Linked DNA regions of Homo sapiens. The protein of the gene in region 1 purifies or fractionates together with the protein of each later gene. This does not show direct contact. Each region holds a gene or a part of one and is shown in the gene's direction. Other genes may lie near its edges. The genes, in order: NOX5 and PDP2.

Region 1 (3,825 bases):
AAACCAAGTTGTGACCCAACAGCCTTGGGTATATGTTCTCAGGATAGCTTGAGGGCTGTGTCACAGGCCATTGGTCACTCGTATTTGGCTCAGAGTAAGTATCTTCAAGTATTTTATAGTTTGACTCTTTGTTGATATATTTTATACACACACACACACACACACACACACACTCAAATACATGCCACACATATATAGCATAAGACACATGCCTATAAAGAGGTCAAACAGAGAAACAGAGGTCAAATAACTGGCACAGGATCACCCAGCAGGCACGAGGCACTTTAGAAAACCATGGAAGTGCTGTCTGAGGGTTTCTTTTCACTCAGTAATACCAGCGGCTCTGAGAATGCTTGCTAGAATTCACACTCCCAGGGCCCAAACCTCAGAGCTTCTGGTCCTGAAGATCTGGGGCTGCAGAGAATGTGCACTTTCAACTCTTGAGATGATGCAATTGTGGGCGGTCCATGGACCGGACCGCACTCATGGAGCCCCAGAGGCGCCGGTTGCTCAGGCATCCTAGGGAAACTCCAACTCCCATTTGGGTTTCAGAGAAAGAGGAACAAGCAGCAGGTGGGATTCCTAGGGATTGGCAGGGAGAATGGGCAAGGAGGCTGCAGGGCCAGGCCTGGGGACCGGGTACTTGCTCAGGCAGGTGAGAGGCAGCTGGCGGAGTTGGTGTGAGCCAGCAACAGACTCTTTAAGTCTGATAAGAAACATTTACACTCTGTTGTCTTTGAAGCCTGCTACGTGGAGGCTTTACCTGAATGATGAAAGCTTGGTCTCCATAAGCCCTTATTTTAACCTAGAAAACGCTGCTCTGATAGGGAATTACAGTTAGCTGGGACACAACCTAGGGAGATGCTGACAGTGCACCTCTCCCACCAAGTGAGGACCACCCCCACCCCCACCCCCACAAGACTCTTTTGTGTTACTGGACGCCCAAAGCTGGGAACCGTGCTTCAGAGGGCGGATTCTCATCTGATCAGTGGGCTGTACCTGTTGAGCCACTTGCCTCACAGGTGTGTTCTGGGATGAGGTTGTGCCGTGTAAAATGTTTGTTTTACTAAGGTATTAATTTGCTGGGGGATAAGAGGCCAGTAACACCCTTGATATCACCTTTTGGAGAAGCTGCCCTGGGGAGCCACATCCCGGGCCAGAGCTCACTGATGGCACAGGATTAAAGGTCAGGGGATGGAGAGGGATTTTTTGTTTGCTCTATTCTATTCTATTTTATATTTTATTATGTTATAAGGGATGGGTTCTCTGTTGCCCAGGCTGGAGTGCAATGGTGTGATTAAAGTTCACTTTAGCTTCGACCTTCTAGGCTCAAGCCATCCTCCCACCTCAGCTGCTAGAGTAGCTGGGATCACAGGTGCATGCTATCATGCCTGGCTAATTTTTTAAATTTTTGTAGAGATGAGGTTTCACTATGTTGCGCAGGCTGGTCTCAAACTCCTTAACTCAAGCAGTCCTCCTGCCTCAGCCTCCCAGTGTATTAGGATTACAGGCATGAGCCACCACCCCCGGCCTTGCTTGCTTTTTAATTGTCATACCCGGCAGTAACGAGGTACTCCCTCCTCCTCCCGACTGGGATGGTCAGAGGAGGCCCAGTGGAGAGTCAGGACTTTGCCCACTGCCCACCTGCCATGGAAGGGGGCAGGGAGGGATGTAGGTGTGGCTGTGAACCGGCAACTTGAGAGAGTCTTGTGGTGGAAAGTTCTGTATCTTGACTCTATCAATGTCAGTATCCTCTTTGTGATATTGTACTACAATTTTGTGAGATATTACAATTGGGAGAAACGGAATAAAGAAATCTCTACATTATGGCTCATACCTGTATGTGAATCCATAATTATCTCAAAATGAAGAGTTTTCAAAGATTATCACAAGAATGGTGTATGCTCATGGATACCATCAGATCAATCATACTGAGGCGTAAAGCAATACAGAACTGAAATCCTCTTTCTCCCCTCCAGTCCTGCCTCTTTAAGGACCAGTGCTGACAGCCTGATGATTCCCTTCCACACAGTGCTACTGTATTTATTCAAATCAATTCACACCTATTATAGATAACGTGGGCGGGCTTAGCTGTTTTGAATGGCAATCTAGTACACAGTGGTGGATGATGGATATGGGCCATTATGCAGTAACACTTTTATTTTTGTAGGATACATTCCTAAAAATTGAATTGCCTGAAAGATAGTACAATTCATGTTCTCACCAGCACTGTTTATATTGGATATTACCAATCTTTTGATTTTTGGCATTCTGATACCACTTCCCCCAACTACAAAAGATATAATTGTTATAAATCCCATTTCCCCAGGCATGAGAAGTGAATTGAACATCTTTTCAAATGTTTATCAACCAATATAAGTTCTCTCTTATGAATTGTCCTTTTATATCTTTTGCTACTTTCCATTGCTGGTTTCTGTTTGTTTGTTTTTGCTTCTGTCAAACCTATAGGACTTCTATGTTAAAAGAACACTAACACAGCTGCAATTTATCAATACCTAATAAAAGCATTTACTGTTATTGTTGCCCTTTTAGTTGTTGTTATTTTATAACAGGTGTGACCATTCCATCATGCTTATTGCAAATATTTTCCTTCAGCCTATTGCCTTTTGAATTTGTTGTCTTCTGTCATGCAGAAATTAATTTTTACATATGCAGATCTACAGATCATTTTCCTTAATGTTTTTGGGATCCCTATCTTGTGCCCCTACTTAAAGATGATACAAATTTCCTATAATTTCTGCTAATTCTCATTATTTTATTTATTTTTACATTTAGGCATTTATAATTTGATCAGAAAATGTAAATAAAATAGTATACTGTAGTTATCTAATTATTTTATTCTGTGTAGACATTTTGCCAAAAGCATTTATTTAATTATCCAACTTTTAATAACAATTATAAATACAATTTTTTAAAATTTCCATTTGTAACTGCTTTGGCTAATAAGATAGATGGTAAAGATGTAAATAAATATGAATATATATATATAGATATCAATTTTTATATGCATATAAATATAGATAGATATAGATCATTGATTTTGGTCTGTTTCCCTTGAGCCCAGAAACTAGCCATCACTAATACCTAGTATTTGGAGATTGAATTTAATGCATTAAACTAGAGAAACTAAATAAACATTGCAAATATCATAGAACAAGAGAGAAAATTACTAGTTTGTAAACTAGGTAATTTCCTCCCATTTTTCTTATAGTTTTAATTAAGAATGAATTTTGAACTTTATCAGGTGCTTCCTTAGCATTTATTGACATAATAAAAACTATTTTTCTTCTTTAATTTGTTGATATCAAAAATTACGTTGATAGGCGTCTTAATAATGAACCATCCTTACATTACTAAACTAAGTTCTAACTAACTAATTAGGTTCTAACTAACTAAACTAAGGTTGGGTTTGTTTTTTTTTTAAAGTGACCTTCTAGATTTAATTCAGTTATATTTTAGTTAAAGCTTTGTATAAGTTAAACTTGTATAGAATTTCCTTTTCATATGCTCTTTTCATTGGATTTGGGTAAAGCTTGCTTTGTAAAATGAATTGGGAATCTTACTATCTCTTTCTATGATCTAAGATGGTTTACCATTGGGTTTATCATTCTTTGAAGATTAGATAGAACTCAGCTCTAAAAACAAGCTGGCCCTGACATTATTTTCAATGGTTGACATTTAACTGCCCTTTTGAATTCTTTTTTTTTTTTTTTTTGAGACAGCATCTGTGATCTCAACTCACTGCAACCTCTGCCTCCTGGGTTCAAGTGATTCTCCTGCCTCAGCCTCCCCAGTAGCTGGGAC
Region 2 (3,825 bases), on another chromosome or scaffold:
AACATTCTTCTGTCAATTCCACACAATCCTTCTACCTCTGCTATGCTGAACCCCTCATTCACCCTGCACCTGCCAACTGCAAAATATTGTCTGAAAGAATCTTTCACATGTTCCTGCTTCCTATGGCTGCAGGAAAGGAGAAAATGTGATTGCATGTGGTAGTTGTGGTGATAGACGTTTAGACAGGACAGGTTAATTTAGCGGATTGTGGACTTAAGATTCAACCTCTATCTGGAGAGGTGAAAACACAAAGGCTTAAGGACAACAGTTTCTAACCAAGTTTCTCTGAATCCTTTCCTGAGAGGTGGTGGGCAGGAGGGAGGAGTGAGACTTATCAGATGGGACGCTTGCCCCAAGACTGTGGGATAAACCACCATTGCTAGTCCTCAGGAATTAGACCATATTTAGTATAGGAGTTGGGGCAAAAATAAAAGTGTAATTTGTAATGGTTTCTGTGGGCTGTAGACTCTTTGTATTTACTTGGAAATTCAGTTATGTGGATCCATTTTGGAGATGAATTTCATCTCATGAGTTGCTGTGGCATTTAAACAACAGGAAATGTGTCCCTAAATGGAAACAAATATAATCCCACAAAACCAACAATTTTATTTGCCTCTACTACGTCAGGCAGAATTCTTCAATTAAGTTGAACTACATTTGTTGATCCCTTTTCTCATCTTACCCCTTTATGCCACCTACTGAAAAGAAAAACAAATAGCTAGGTTTGGTTTCCTGTTTTTTGTCTATGTCCCAGCTGACATTCAGTCAAATGTTGGGATACTTCTAATTTGGTGGTGTTTCTTTGTACATTTTTCAGTGCAACTGTTTAGTCATGTGTTTTCATCTAAGAAATTATCTTTTGAATATTTAAGCCTTGATCCTTTTATTCTGAAACCATTAATATTCCTTCTTGGCTGGGTGCAGTAGTTTACGCCTGTAATCCCAGCACTGTGGGAGGCCGAGGCGGATGGATCACCTGAGGTCGGGAATTCGAGACCAGCCTGACCAACATGGAGAAACTCCATCTCTACTAAAAATACAAAATTAGCCAGGTGTGGTGGTGCATGCCTGTAATCCCAGCTACTCGGGAGGCTGAGGCAGGAAAATCACTTGAACCCGGGAGGCGGAGGTTGCGGTGAGCCAAGATCGCACCATTGCACTCCAGCCTGGGCAACAAGAGTGAAACTCTGTCTCAAAAAAAAAAAAAAAAAATCCATCTTATCTCTTAGTCCGTCCTTCCTTCCTTCCTTCCTTCCTTCCTTCCTTCCTTCCTTCCTTCCTTCCTTCCTTCCTTCCTTCCTCTCTCTCTCTTTCTTTCTTTCTTTCCTTCTTGACAGGGTCTCCCTGTAGCCAGGCTGGAGTGCAATGGCATGATCTTGGCTCACTGCAACCTCTGCAGCCCAGGCTCAAACGATCCTCCTGCCTCAGCCTCCCGAGTAGCTGGGACTATGCACCACCATGCCTGGCTAATTTTTTTAATTTTTTGTAGAGACAGGGTTTTGCCATGTTGCCCAGGCTGGTCTCAAACTCCTAGACTCAAGCAATCTGCCCACCTCGGCCTCCCAAGGTGCTGGGATGATAGGCATGAGCCACCGCACCCAGCCTATCTCCTAGATCTTGAATCAAAAATAAAATGTAAATCACTTCCATTCTGCTAGCATGAGGGTTTGTTGCTAAAATTGAGGATTCTATCTGACGTTTACTTTTTGTTGTTTTTTGAGACAAGGTCTTGCTTTGTCGCCCATGCTGGAGTGCAGTGGCATCATTATAACTCACTGTCAAACTCCTGGACTCCAATGTTCCCTCCCCTTTTAGCCTCCCAAGTAGCTGGGTCTACAGGCATGAACCATCAGGCCCAGATAATTAAAAAAACTTTTTTTGGTGAAAACATGATCTTGCTATGTTGCTCAGGCTGGTTGTCTGGCATTTTCTTTGTCCTTTATTCTTTATACTAGCTAAACCCTGGAGTATCCTTGAAGCCTTTACTGGCATACAGAGTACCTGAATCTTACTTTGGAGCCTAGCATGGGTCATAAATATATCTGATTCATTAACCTGTGAGACAGCTGAGAGAACACAGACTCCTTACCTGTATCTCCAGGCATATCTGGTTTTTCTCTGCCTAATAGATTTTCCTGCTTTCTAGTTAGTAATATTGAGAAAGAAGAAAGGCTTATTTATCATTTGCTTTTTTTCCACTGTGAATCATCTGTTCTTTCCATGAACATTCTGGGGAGCACCTCCTGATTAAACTCCTGTCTCCCTGACCACTATCCTGCTGTCATTGGACTTCTTGAAGCACATGGGCTACTGCCCCAGGACACTGGGATTTGAGAGGAGTTTAGTGGTAATTGTCAGGTCTTTCAAAGCATTTATTATTCCTTTTATACGGAGATTTCAGTATTGAGACTTAAAATGAACTGAAAAATGAGATTGAACATTTAATATTTTGGATGTAACTTTTGAAGAAAGTATGCTTTGGTGCTTAAAATTGTATATGATTTTAGGTAAGAAACTTTGATAATATTGGCATAATTTAGATTTATTTTCTTTCTTTTTTTTGAGACAGTCTCACTCAGTCGCCCAGGCTGAAGTGCAGTGACACAGTCTCAGCTCACTGCAACGTCTGCCTCCCAGATTGAAGTGACTCTCGTGCCTCTGCCACAGAGTAGCTGGGATTACAGGCATGCACCACCACACACCGCTAATTTTTTGTATTTTTAGTAGAGACAGAGTTTCACCATGTTGGCCAGGCTGCGAACTCCTGAGCTCAAGTGATCCTCCCACCTCAGCTTCCCAAAGTGCTAGCATTACAGGCATGAGCCACCACACCTCACCAGATTTTTAAAAAATATATAACTGCATCTCTCTTGATTCTGGGGCTTGGTAAAAATGGATAGATAAGATAGTATTCTAAATTCAAATTCGTGGCTAGGCACAGTGGCCCACACCTGTAATCCCAGCACTTTGGGATTCCAAGACAGAAGACTCACTTGAGTACAGTATGAGACCAGCCTGGGCAACATAGATCTTGCCTCTACAAAAAAAAAAAAAAATAGCCAGGTGTGGCACATGCCTGTAGTCTCAGCTGCTTGGAAGGCTGAAATGAGAGGATCTCTTGAGCCCAGGAGGTCTAGGCCAGAGTGAGCTGTGATCGTGCCATTGCACTCCAGACTGAGTGACAGAGTGAGACTGTGTCTAAAAAAAAAGTTTGAATTAAAAAAAAAAAAAAAAAAGTCGGCTGTGCACGGTGGCTCATGCCTGTGATCCCAGCACTTTCGGAGGCCAAAGTGGGTGGATTACCTGAGGTCAGGAGTTTGAGACCAGCCTGACCAACATGGTAAAACTCCATCTCTACTAAAAATACAAAAATTAGCCTGGAATAGTGGCGCATGCCTGTAATCCCAGCTACTTGTGAGGCTGAGGCAGGAGAATCCCTTGAACCCAGAAGGCAGAGGTTGCAGTGAGCTGAGATTGTGCCATTGCACTCCAGCCTGGGCAACATGAGCGAAACTCCATCTCAAAAAAACAAAAACAAAAAACAAACTCAAATTAGCATGATAGATCAGGCTACTTAGATTCAGCTTTCTGAGATGTTATTTGTTAACATTAAGGCTAATTTATTATAATGAAAATGTAAACTTTGAGGTATGTTAATATATAAACATCTTTTTCCTTTGGCCTAAAAGGTCTTTAGTATTCAGCACACTGGGTAAAGTTCAGTTTAGACACAATCAAATTGGCATCTTTTAAACATAAGTGAAATATAGAGAGCTTGAACTTGAGTTACTTAAAGAAGATACAGTATAATTAATTATACAGAAC

The links.
Region 2: the proteins of NOX5 (region 1) and PDP2 purify together in Homo sapiens (affinity purification with mass spectrometry, with the first as the bait; 2 studies listed by BioGRID). This does not show direct contact.

The regions. Positions count from the first base shown.
Region 1 is NC_000015.10:69,017,631-69,021,455, forward strand, and holds part of NOX5 (NADPH oxidase 5), read left to right. Parts: intron 1-3,825. UniProt on the Homo sapiens protein: Calcium-dependent NADPH oxidase that catalyzes the generation of superoxide from molecular oxygen utilizing NADPH as an electron donor. May play a role in cell growth and apoptosis.
Region 2 is NC_000016.10:66,886,759-66,890,583, forward strand, and holds part of PDP2 ([Pyruvate dehydrogenase [acetyl-transferring]]-phosphatase 2, mitochondrial precursor), read left to right. Parts: 3' UTR 1-3,825. UniProt on the Homo sapiens protein: Mitochondrial enzyme that catalyzes the dephosphorylation and concomitant reactivation of the alpha subunit of the E1 component of the pyruvate dehydrogenase complex (PDC), thereby stimulating the conversion of pyruvate into acetyl-CoA.